Homo sapiens: one gene and its partners. The protein of the gene in region 2 purifies or fractionates together with the protein of the main gene of each other region. This does not show direct contact. Each region holds a gene or a part of one and is shown on either strand. Other genes may lie near its edges. The genes, in order: CCNB2, CRHBP and COA7.

Region 1 (3,748 bases), on a different chromosome or scaffold from region 2:
TATTTAATGATTATTTCTCATATAGTACCCATATCACTTGTTAGAGATCCCTGCAAGTTAAAGGCATATATTTAAAAACCTTCCTTTACAGAGCTTGGTAAAAAGTAAATTAAGATGAAAAATAATAAAGCTATAATATTAATAGTTAATAATAGGTCTGGTTGTTTAAAAACCAGATGTTTAAAACCTAAACTAGCTTTGATTCTTATGCCATTTCACAAATAAGAAATGCTCCTGTATGCATGATCTTTTAGAACTACAGCTTTTTAAAATGAGGTTGCCATAGAATGGATTTTCTCTTATATTAAGGACATTTAGAATGGAAGTAGTTTTCTTGAGTAATATAGTTTTAGCTCCCAAACTCAGGGAAGGTTGGAATTGTATGAAATAAAAATTGTCAGTTGACCTTAACCTGCTTTAGACATAATGTGCTTGGAAATAAAACTTGCTAGGAAAAGCAACTCATACCAAAAAAAGTTTATTATAGAAGTGATAAACATTTCATTAAAAAAGAAAAAAGCAAAAAACCAGCATGTCCTATCCCTGAGAGTTCAGGGTCCCGACTCTAATAAAACTCCCAACAAGGGGTTTGAGTGGATCTACCAGGCAGAGAGAGGGGCCAGGGAAACTCAAGCCTTCCCTGAACAGAAAGGTTTTGACTATTAAATAACGTTATAGAATACATTATTATAAAAAATTACTTGTCAGTTGGACTTAGATCCACAAAAGGATATTAATTAAATGCTAAATGTATTCAATCTATTAGGATTCTCAAAAGTCACACTTCAATTTCTTCCAGCAGCAACTGCCAATCTGAAAAAGTGTTTGAAAATGTAATGCTTATGGGTAGAAGCCTGGTAATGTGACTCAATTTAAATTCATCTGGATAGGAAAATTGGCAGCTTTTATCTAACCTTATAGCCAAGATGATGGAACTCAGGTGTGTCAGGGCCCTCTAGCTTTCGGCAAAGGAAAAAAGTAGGTCCCGGTACAATTCAAGCCCACAGGAAAAATACCCAAAACACCATAACACTTTGATCTCTGCAAGGATGAAATAAATGAATTTGGACCCTTTTCTCTCAGTCTGCCACATTGGTCCAAATTATATTCAAAAACCTCTGTTACATTTGAGTAAAGAAATTAATTTTTTAAGGGGACAAACCCATTTATTAGTGAACGTAGCATGGAAGACTTAGCGTGCCGAAATAAATGGGAAACTCATACAAAAAGAAATGTGAACAATCTGAAAAACAGCCTGGCAGTTGCCTGATGAAACACGCCGTACACTTTACTGCCTACAGAACCCTTCCAGTCCTCCTCCCAGCCGCCATCACAGGTCCCTTAGTTGGCAAGGAGTTGTAAGAAAGGGGGAGGGAAATCCCAGGAACGTGGAAGTAGATAACTCTCTAGCAATGAAGAGCACTCGGGGATCGCTCGCTGAGTACTAGGCCTAGTGCTCTGGGGGCTCACTTGACAGGCGCCATCTCGGAAGCGCTTTCCTACACTTCTCCCACCCCGGGGCAGGGAGGGGTTAGGGGAGGGCGGAATCCAGACGGGGAAAGGCGGGCCGGAGAGGACCGGCCGCAGGGCCAGGGACGCGGGCGAAGCAGTGAGCTCCGGAGAAGAGAAAAGCAGCCCCGGTTGGGACGGAGAAGCTCGGAGCAGATGAGAGAAGCGACAGGGGAGCTGTGGGGCCGACGGACTCGCCTCTGAGAGCGGTCCCCGGGCACACTCACCGTCGGGCGTCGGAGCAGCGCCATGAGGGACGGGGAAGGCAAGAGTGCCAGCCCGGCCCAGGGAGGGACGCGGACTGAAAAGGGAGGACACTAGCGTACGAGGCGCCGTTAGGACTGCTCTCCGAGCCCGCAGCGCTGGGGATCTTCGACGCTGTAGCCTTGTTCCAGGATTCAAATACCGCGTCGCTTGCGCCCCATTGGGCGGCCCTGCGCACGGGTCGCTGTTCTCATTGGCCAACACAAGATGCACTCTCGCACTCTCATTGGCTGAATTTTCTTAGACACGTTTGATTGTCACAACAGCCGGTTGGGGTGTTTTTTCTGCCTACAGTCTTTTAAAAAAAAAAAAACCCCAGTCTCTGAGACAAACAAAAAGGAACTGTCTCATTGGGAAAGCAGACGTAGGACGCCTCTGAATTTTGACAAGGCCTCATCTACGAATTTCTCTCGACGTTTGTAGTGGGTGGGCGGAAGTTGGTTGGCCTTTATTCCTCTTCTGGTGTGTTGGGGTTTAAGTTGTGTTGGCCTGGGTGCAGGAACCGGCCCCTCCGGGTTGCTCAGGGATGCAGTGTGTTAGGTGGTTGAGATGCAAAAGTGTGCTTAAAAAAAGAGAGAATAATGGCGTTTACTCAAAAACCCAAATTCTCAAGTAAGGCAAAAAAAAAAAAAAAAAGATAAAAGAGATTTGTGTGACTGGTGATTCATGTAAGTTCTCCATTGTATTCCCAACACCTAGTACATCGTTTGTCGTATATGGTTGGTGCTCAATAAATGTTCGTCTAATAATCAGCCCAAGCAAAGAATTCATGTCTAAGACCCCAAAAGCAAATGCAACAAAAACAAAAATACATAAATGGGACCTAATTAAACTAAAAAGCTTCTGCACATCAAAAGAAATAATAGACAACCACAGATTAAGAGAAAATATTTGCAAACTATGCATCGGAAAAAGGCCTAGTGTCCAGAATCTAGAAGGAACTCAAATCAGCAAGAAAGAAAATAATGCCATCAAAAAATGGGCAAAGGACATGAATAGATATTTCTCAAAAGATATTCAAATGGCCAACAAATACATGAAAAAATGCTCAACATCACTGATCATCGAAGAAATGCAAGTTAATACCACAAGGAGATACCACCTTACTCCTGCAAGAATGGCCATCATTAAAAAGTCAGAAAAAAAGGCCGGGCGCAGTGGCTCACACCTGTAATCCCAGCACTTTGGGAGGCCTGTTGGGCAGATCATTTGAGCCCAGGTGTTCAAGACCAGCCTGGGCAACATGGCAAAACCCCGTCTCTACAAAAATACAAATATTAGCCGGGTGTAGTGGTGAGCACCTGTAGTCCCAGGTACTGGGAGGGGGGCGGGGGGCGGGGGGCGGGGGGCCGTGTGTTGGGGCAGGAGGATCCCTTGATCCCATGAGTCTGAGGCTGCAGTGAGCCATGATTGTGCCACAGTACTCCAGCCTGGGCAACACATTGAAACCCTGTCTAAAAAAGAAAAAAAACCTCAAAAAACAATAGTCAAAAAACAGTGTAGGCGTGGATGTGGGGAAAAGGGAATGCTTAAACACTGCTGGTAGGAATGTACAACTTCTATGGAAAAAAGTATGGTGATTCCTTAAAGAACAAAAAGTAGTTCTACCATTTGGTCCAGCAATTCCACTACTGGGTATCTACCCAAAGGAAAAGAAGTCATTATATGAAGAAGACACTTGCACATGTATGTTTACAGCAGCACAATTCACAATTGCCAACCTAAGTGCCCATCGACCGAGTGGGTACAGAAAATGTGGTATATATACACCATGGAATACTACTCAGCAATAAAAAGGAACAAAATAATGTCTTTTGCAGCAACCTGGATGGAGCTAGAGGCCATTATTCTAAGTGAAGTAACTCAGGAGTGGAAAACCAAAAACCGTATGTTTTCACTTGTAAGTGGGAGCTAAGCTGTGAATATACAAAGGCAAACACAGTGATATAATGGAATTTAGAGACTCAGAAGAGGG
Region 2 (3,748 bases):
CATCCCAGCTCTTGCTGTGTGTGGTTCCTGAGGAGTGGGCATCATGACAGCAGGGTGGGAACATCACTGTTGTCTGTGCACGTGCATGCGTGCATGTGTGTGTGCACATGTGCACATGTGCATATGCTTGTAAAGGGGCTGGCTGGAGAAGAATGTCTCCTTGGTGATGCTAACAAAGCAACATTGAGCTGGAGTGACATCAGGTGCCAGACCCCCTAAGAGGTAAAGGCAGAGGTCTCCAAGGTGGGTGCTGGACTGAATTCTGGGAACAGGCCAAGGGCTGTGGCTACATCAATGGGAAAGAGAAGAGGGCCTGTGGCATGCCTGGTGAGTGGGCCTAAGGCTCCCTCTAGGCACAAAAAGGGTGGGAGATAGAGCTGAAGATGGCCTGGCATGTTTGAGGCCAGCAAGTTGGGGTTAAGTTGTTTGTTTTTCTCCTCTTTTATTCCTCCCAGGTTTCTTTATAACCTTTTCAAAATTCAGGCATCTAAACAGCCCTTGGGATGAGAAGGACATGGTGGCCAGTGTCCATGAGCTTTAGGTACTCTTTTCCCTCTCACTGTCTGTGGTCTGAGGACTGCTTACAAAGTTGGACTGTGGCACGAAGGCCTCCTGATTAAACCAACAAAGAGGCCGCCTCTCCAGAGCTCAGAATTGTCCTGACATGAAAATAATCAAGTTCTGACACTGCCAGGATAATTACTGTTTAATTTCGAGTATTTTAAAACTGAAAATATAGCCATTCCTTCCTTTATAACTCTGTATTATGGTCTATTTGTAATAATTGTAATAACAATGCTTGGTGCAGAGACTGGAAAGGGGTAGGAAAGCCAATAGTGGAGCATCCTCATGTTTCCCACAGTTTTGGACACAAAGAAGAAATTCTCTTCTCTCCTGATAAGCAGAGATAAGCTTATACTTATTTCCGGATCCCTAAGTCATCTTTTTAGCCCTGCAAATTTGCTGGTGAGCAGTTACAATAAAGCTTCCTGGCAGTTCCTTCTACCAGAGTGTTAAAGTAATCCAGGTATTTGAAGGCACGAAATGGAATGACTTAATCTCATCTCTCAGTGGTTCAGATGGATGCGAAGGTCATGGCTACAGCTACCTGGTCTAGGAGTGTGTACATCATGTAAACATCCAGGTCAAGTGACAGAGCTCAGCTAAAATCCAGAAGTCCCCTGACACCAGAGTTAGTTTTCCATGAAAGAAATGCCTATAAGAAACTGGACCAGGATAAAGCAAAGAGTAAGGGGCAGGAAGAAAGCTTATAATTGCATTACTGCAATCTTCTGCAAAATCAGACTTCTGCTTCTGTTCCACCTCTTTAAAGCTGAAAATGCCTCAAGTTTCTTACTGAGAGACATGAGAAATTCCATGAATACTAAATTCTTTGACAATTTCTAGCATGGTTTCATCCAAGGTTATGTGATGAGGCTGCATAATATAGGCTCTATATGTTTGGGTATTTTATGCGTGTATGTAACTTTGTCACTTTGATTTGCAAAATGGAAAATTCCCTGAATGCCCACAGAAAAGTATAATGTAGCATTTAGCAGGTCAACAAAATGCACTCCCTTATTCTTTGTCTCCGCCTCATTCTCCAACACTTTAGTGCACTAAGTTGTAGTGACTGAAATCATTCTTGGTGAATAATGCTGGGCCACGCTGAAAATTTGTGGCTGAGAGCTGGACCCTCGTCATCGCCACGTACTCTGTCAATGAGACAGGGTAACCCATGGTTACTGAGCTCCGATCAGTTAAGGGGCAGAGAGCCTCCGCTCCCCACTGCTCTATAAAAGAGACCCAGCAAAGGGACCCTACCAGCTTCTAGCTCTCAGTCTGCGCGAGGGTGTAGGAAGGAAAGCCCAGGACCTCCGGAGCAGAGCACAGCAGCTGCAGAGGCAAGGCCAGCATGTCGCCCAACTTCAAACTTCAGTGTCACTTCATTCTCATCTTCCTGACGGCTCTAAGAGGGGAAAGCCGGTACCTAGAGGTGAGCCACCCCTGGACTGACCCATCTCACCTTCCTTGCGTGTTAGCCCTAGGCGGCAGGCAGGCTGCCTCTGCTCGCAGCCTTTTGGGGTTCGCTGTTTCTTCCCTCTCTGCTGGATGCTGTCTTGCCCCTGGTTTCCCCTATCCTGTTCTCCCTCCTTGCCTCTGAGCATCCCAGACTGCCTGCCTGCCTTCCTCTGGCCGCTGGGGATACCCTGGCCTGATGGAGAGGGTCTAAGACCTTCCCGTCTTCTCCGGACACGGGAAAACATTACCCCTCTCTCTTTATTCGCTATGCTGAGTGGCAGGGAGGGTGCCCCGCTCCTGGTCCCCTTTTTTATCCCCAGCCCTTGAACTTTTCCGGACTGACCTATGTTTCTTGCCAGCTGAGGGAAGCGGCGGACTACGATCCTTTCCTGCTCTTCAGCGCCAACCTGAAGCGGGAGCTGGCTGGGGAGCAGCCGTACCGCCGCGCTCTGCGTGAGTCGAGGCTGCCCGGCTCGCGGGCGCCCGGGACGCGGGGAAGGTGGGACTCTGTGCGGGGGGCAGAGGGCTCGCGGACATCTCGGGGAAGGGGCTGGCCGGAACCGCCAGGGGCGCGGTCCCCTTAGCTAAGGATCGGTCCGCGGAGGCGCGCCAGGAGCGGGAGAGGGTGGCGCGCCCGGGGCGCAGGAACCCAGCGCAGCCTAGGCTGGAAGTCGGGGCGCTGGGCACTACAGAGCCCGGGAATGGGGCGCGCGGAGAGCGGCCGCCCGAGGACGGCGCTGCGGCGGCTGCAGCCCGGGACTTATTGCCCCATGCCCTCCTCCCCCAGGGTGCCTGGACATGCTGAGCCTCCAGGGCCAGTTCACCTTCACCGCCGACCGGCCGCAGCTGCACTGCGCAGCCTTCTTCATCAGCGAGCCCGAGGAGTTCATTACCATCCACTACGACCAGGTCTCCATCGACTGTCAGGGCGGCGACTTCCTGAAGGTGAGGCGCCCACGGCCAGCCAACCTAGCCGGAGGGCGGCACGGGAGGGTTGGAAAGGGCTGGGGCGCTGCACCCAGCGTGGGGCTGCTGAGCGTAGGTAGCCAGTGGCACTTCTTAGACACTTCGCTGGTGCCCGAGTCGGAGAGGCGCGTTCGAGGACCCCCACACGGCGAGAATCTCGCCCTTACCCGAAGACCTCGACCCACACACATCCAGTGGGGCTGGGGCCGGTGCCTCTGGACGCTGCCATGGTTTAAATTCCCTTCTGGGCGCTTTCGAGGCCCTAGGAACTTCTAAAGACTTGAACTCGCAGCGCGGAACTCTGACGCAATCCAGGGCCGAGGAAAAATGATTAAAACCCAACAAGCTCGAGTGCTGGGGTCCACCAAGCGGGCCGTCTTGGTTAGAAGGCCCGCCCCACACGTCTCACATCTGAGCCCGCCTCGCTCCTGCTGGTCCACGCTCGGCAGAGCCGTTCCGAGAGCACAGAGGCTGTCTTCAGTGCGCGGGTGACCCGATTTTGGAGCAGTAGGGGACTGGCTGCCGAGGGGGCATCTAGATTGAGATAGGTGGGAGGGCAGGACAAGACCCCTAAGCTCACTGCCTCCTCGATTCCAGTCGTCAGACTCCATAAGTATAACAGGGCAGCATGGGATGGCTGATGGAGCTCTACTGTCCAATTAAAATAATCATGATTAACATCTCCAAAGTAGGATTATTTTGGAACCTGTCACATGCGTTAGAAATAATTTGTAGCTGGGTTGTTGGTAATTTTGCTAAT
Region 3 (3,748 bases), on a different chromosome or scaffold from region 2:
CAGCACTTTGGGAGGCCAAGGCAGATGGATTGCTTGAGGTCAGGAGTTCGAGACCAGCCTGGCCAACATGGTGAAACCCTGTCTCTACGAAAATACAAAAATTAGCCAGGCCTGGTGGTGGGTGCCTGTAATCCCAGCTACTCGGGAGGCTGAGGCAGGAGAATTGCTTTAACCCAGGAGGCAAAGGTTGCAGTGAGCTGAGATCGAGCCATTGTACTCCAGCCTGGGTGACAGAGTGAGACTCAGTCTCAAAAAAACAAAAAAATTAAAAAGTAGGCAGTGTGCAGTGGTTCATGCCTGTAATCAAAGGCGGGAGGATCACTTGAGCCCAGGAGTTGCGACCAGCCTGGACAACGTAGTGACATACTATCTCAAAAAAGAAAGAAAATACAAAAAATAAAAATAAAGCAAGAAGAAGAAAACCACCCAAAGGTATTAGCTGCTCTGGGTGGACCCCTCTGGTCACCACCATCCACCTATACTCTTAAGTCAATTCAATGTTCACACAACACACAGGACACATTTGTGATTCAGGGCGTCTTCGCCAGCTGTTACCTATGGTAAGAACTGCATGGTTCACTCCCTTACCTTCTTCAAGGCTTTATTCAATTGCCACTTTCTCAGTGATCTTCCCTGATCACTCAATTTAAAACTGCCCTCCTGCCCTCCTGACACCCTTCACCCAGTCTTTTTTCCACGGCACTTACTACTTTCTTTTTATTTATTTTTTTTGAGACGGAGTCTCGCTCTGTCGCCCAGGCTGGAGTGCAGTGGCGCGATCTCTGCTCACTGCAAGCTCCGCCTCCCGGGTTCACACCACTCTCCTGCCTCAGCCTCCCGAGTAGCTGGGAATACAGGCGCCTGCCACCACGCCCGGCTAATTTTTTGTATTTTTAGTAGAGACAGGGTTTCACCGTGTTAGCCAGGATGGTTTCGATCTCCTGACCTCGTGATCCACCCGCCTCAGCCTCCCAAAGTGCTGGGATTATAGGCGTGAGCCACGGCTCCCGGCCGGTACTTACTACTTTCGAACACGATTTCATGAATTACCTGAGGCTTATTGCCCGACTCCCCGCACTAGCTTGGAAGCTCCACGAGGGCAGGGAGTTTCATCTGTTCACCGATGGATCCCCAGTCCCTAACCCAAAAGCCCCAGCACGTCTCTTCCTACCCGCCCCGGCCTCCTGGCTCGGTCTTCCCGGGACACATCGCCCTTCCCAACACACGCGGTCACCGCGATCCACAGACCCCGTCCCCCGCCCGCCACGTGATTCCTTCTCCAGCCTCTCAGAGGTCGCAGACCAGACCTCTCCGGGCACGTCCCTCCCCGACGCGTCGCCGGGCTGCGCTGGAGCCGCTCACCGTCCGGGTCCTTCTCGTGGTAGCAGTGGTAGTTGCACTCCACCTCCATGTTCTCCAAAAAGGACTTGACCTGCTCCTCATCCTGGAAGTCCACCATGCCGGCCATGGTTCGCGCCGGCCCAAAGACGGTCACGTGAGCCGGCGGAGGGGGCGGGGCGGGGCGTGGGGCTGACGCCGACGCCAACCGCGGCGCTCTCCCGGGATCCCGGGGCGAGCCAAGCGAGCCTGTGCTTCCCAGCAGCCATCGCGCCGTTAAGGGCGCTGGCAGCCACGCTTCCAGGGCTACCGCCTTCCTGAAACTGGGGGCTGTCTCTCTGCAGCACCTTACCTATGCTCGCTTTGTAGCCTTAGTGATTTTCCACCTGCAGTCATTTATCTATGTATAATCCCTAAGCGCCTACTGTGTGCCTCACCAGTGCATTGTTCTAGGGATATGACAGCTAGGAATATGGTCCCTGCCTTCAAAGAACTTGGAGTTCAATAGGAAGACATTCGCTTATCCATTCAGCAAGCATTTAGAGGAGCTTCTATATGTGCCAGGTGTAGCTGGACAAAGTGCAGTGAGCAGTCTGATTCATCTGTCTTCTTCCCAGACCTGTCTTGGCCACCAACATGAATTACCTAAGCAATGAATGGCTATGGGAGATGTTGACTGGCACACAGTAGCAGTGAAGGGTGTAGCAACGTCACTGTTATAACACCTAGTACTCAAACAGTGCTGAACTTTGTTCCAGGCTCTAAATGCTTTATATGAATTAACTCATTTAATTCTCATTATATATCATGTCACTGTAAAAACACTCACAGTGACACTGTGGGTAGGTATTATTATTATCCCCATTCTACAGATAAGAAAACTAAAGTACAGAGAAATTAAGTAGTTTGTCCAAGGTCACACAGTAAGTGAGGGAGTTGGTATGCAATAATAATTTTTTTTAAAAAAATAAAAGAATGAATGAGGCCGGGCGCGGTGGTTCACGCCTGTAATCCCAGCACTTTGGGAGGCCGAGGTGGGTGGATCACCTGAGGTCAAGAGTTCGAGACCAGCCTGGCCAACCTGGTGAAACTCTGTCTCTACTAACAATACAAAATTAGCAGGGGTCTCTACTAAAAATACAAAATTACAGGGAGCACACCTGTAATCCTAGCTCTTTGGGAGGCTCAGGCAGGAGAATTGCTTTAACCTGGGAGGTGGAGGTTGCAGTGAGCCGAAATTGTGCCATTGCATTCCAGCCTGGGCGACAAGAGCGAAAAAGAATGAATGAGGTAGAAAAGGAACATGTCAAGGAGATGGGGAGGAGGAGAGGAAATTTACCTACATTTTGCTTTGTTTTCCTGCTCCTGTTCCTGCTAAGAATCATCAGTTCCATAAAGCTTAGATGGAAAGTTCTCCTAAGACAGCCACTTCCTATTCGTCTTTTTTTTTTTTTTTTTTGAGACGGAGTTTCGTTCTTGTTGCCCAGGCTGAAGTGCAATAGCGCGGTCTCAGCTTACTGCAACCTCCGCCTCCCAGGTTCAAGCGATTCTCTTGCCTCAGCCTCCCGAGTAGCTGGGCTTACAGGTGCCCACCACCACGCCCGGCTAATTTTTTTTGTATTTTTAGTAGAGACAGGGTTTCACTATATTGGCCAGGCTGGTCTTGAACTCCTGACCTCAGGTGGTCCGCTGGCCTCGGCCTCCCAAAGTGCTGGGATTACAGGCGTGAGCCACCACACCCGGCTGACTTCCCATTCATCTTTGAATTCCATCCAGCCCTACTTTTGAATTCTCAATGGAGCTAAATCCATGGCTTCCCATCGCCTATAACAATGCTTTCCAAATGGCTCCATTATTAAGCTATCCCCAATGGCAGCAAAGAATGGACTATTTCCAACCACTTATTTATTGGAAGGCAGCCAATAATGTCTGAAATCCCAGTTTTATTTTTTAAATTCATAGGATTTTACATTCATTTCCCCATAATACATCTTTCATAGGATAACAGAAGATTGCCTTTTCTCCCCCAAGCCTTTGAGTAAAATTGACATTCCAGGCAATATACCACATTTACCTGTGGTTTCTTATACCCTGATCACCTTAGGGGACTCCTCAGTACACATGGCCCAGGATGGGAATCCTTGAACTTTGGTTTGAGGTCATCTTCTTTAGGATGGCCTTCAAGACCCTGTGCAATCTGATTCTAGCCTTATTTTCTGCCTCTCTTCCCCCACATCCCACCAACCTTCTGTTCTCTGAATAGATCCCAAGTTTGTGTCCCTGTTTACCTCTGCTCTTGATGCCTGGACCACCCTTTTTGACACAAATCGGAAATACTCTCCTATGTAAAGTCTTCCCAGACACAACAATTACACACATTCAAATTAGATTTAGATGCTCCCATTTTGGT

The links.
Region 1: the proteins of CRHBP (region 2) and CCNB2 purify together in Homo sapiens (affinity purification with mass spectrometry; 4 studies listed by BioGRID and IntAct, with this or other methods). This does not show direct contact.
Region 3: the proteins of CRHBP (region 2) and COA7 purify together in Homo sapiens (affinity purification with mass spectrometry; 4 studies listed by BioGRID and IntAct, with this or other methods). This does not show direct contact.

Annotation. Positions count from the first base shown.
Region 1 is NC_000015.10:59,103,281-59,107,028, reverse strand, and holds the start of CCNB2 (G2/mitotic-specific cyclin-B2), read right to left. Parts: upstream 1,884-3,748; 5' UTR 1,761-1,883; coding exon 1,737-1,760; intron 1-1,736. UniProt on the Homo sapiens protein: Essential for the control of the cell cycle at the G2/M (mitosis) transition.
Region 2 is NC_000005.10:76,951,220-76,954,967, forward strand, and holds the start of CRHBP (corticotropin-releasing factor-binding protein), read left to right. Parts: upstream 1-1,825; 5' UTR 1,826-1,915; coding exon 1,916-1,996; intron 1,997-2,381; coding exon 2,382-2,475; exon of another isoform or gene 2,476-2,521; intron 2,522-2,809; coding exon 2,810-2,967; intron 2,968-3,748. UniProt on the Homo sapiens protein: Binds CRF and inactivates it. May prevent inappropriate pituitary-adrenal stimulation in pregnancy.
Region 3 is NC_000001.11:52,696,859-52,700,606, forward strand, and holds the start of COA7 (cytochrome c oxidase assembly factor 7), read right to left. Parts: upstream 1,490-3,748; 5' UTR 1,469-1,489; coding exon 1,363-1,468; intron 1-1,362. UniProt on the Homo sapiens protein: Required for assembly of mitochondrial respiratory chain complex I and complex IV.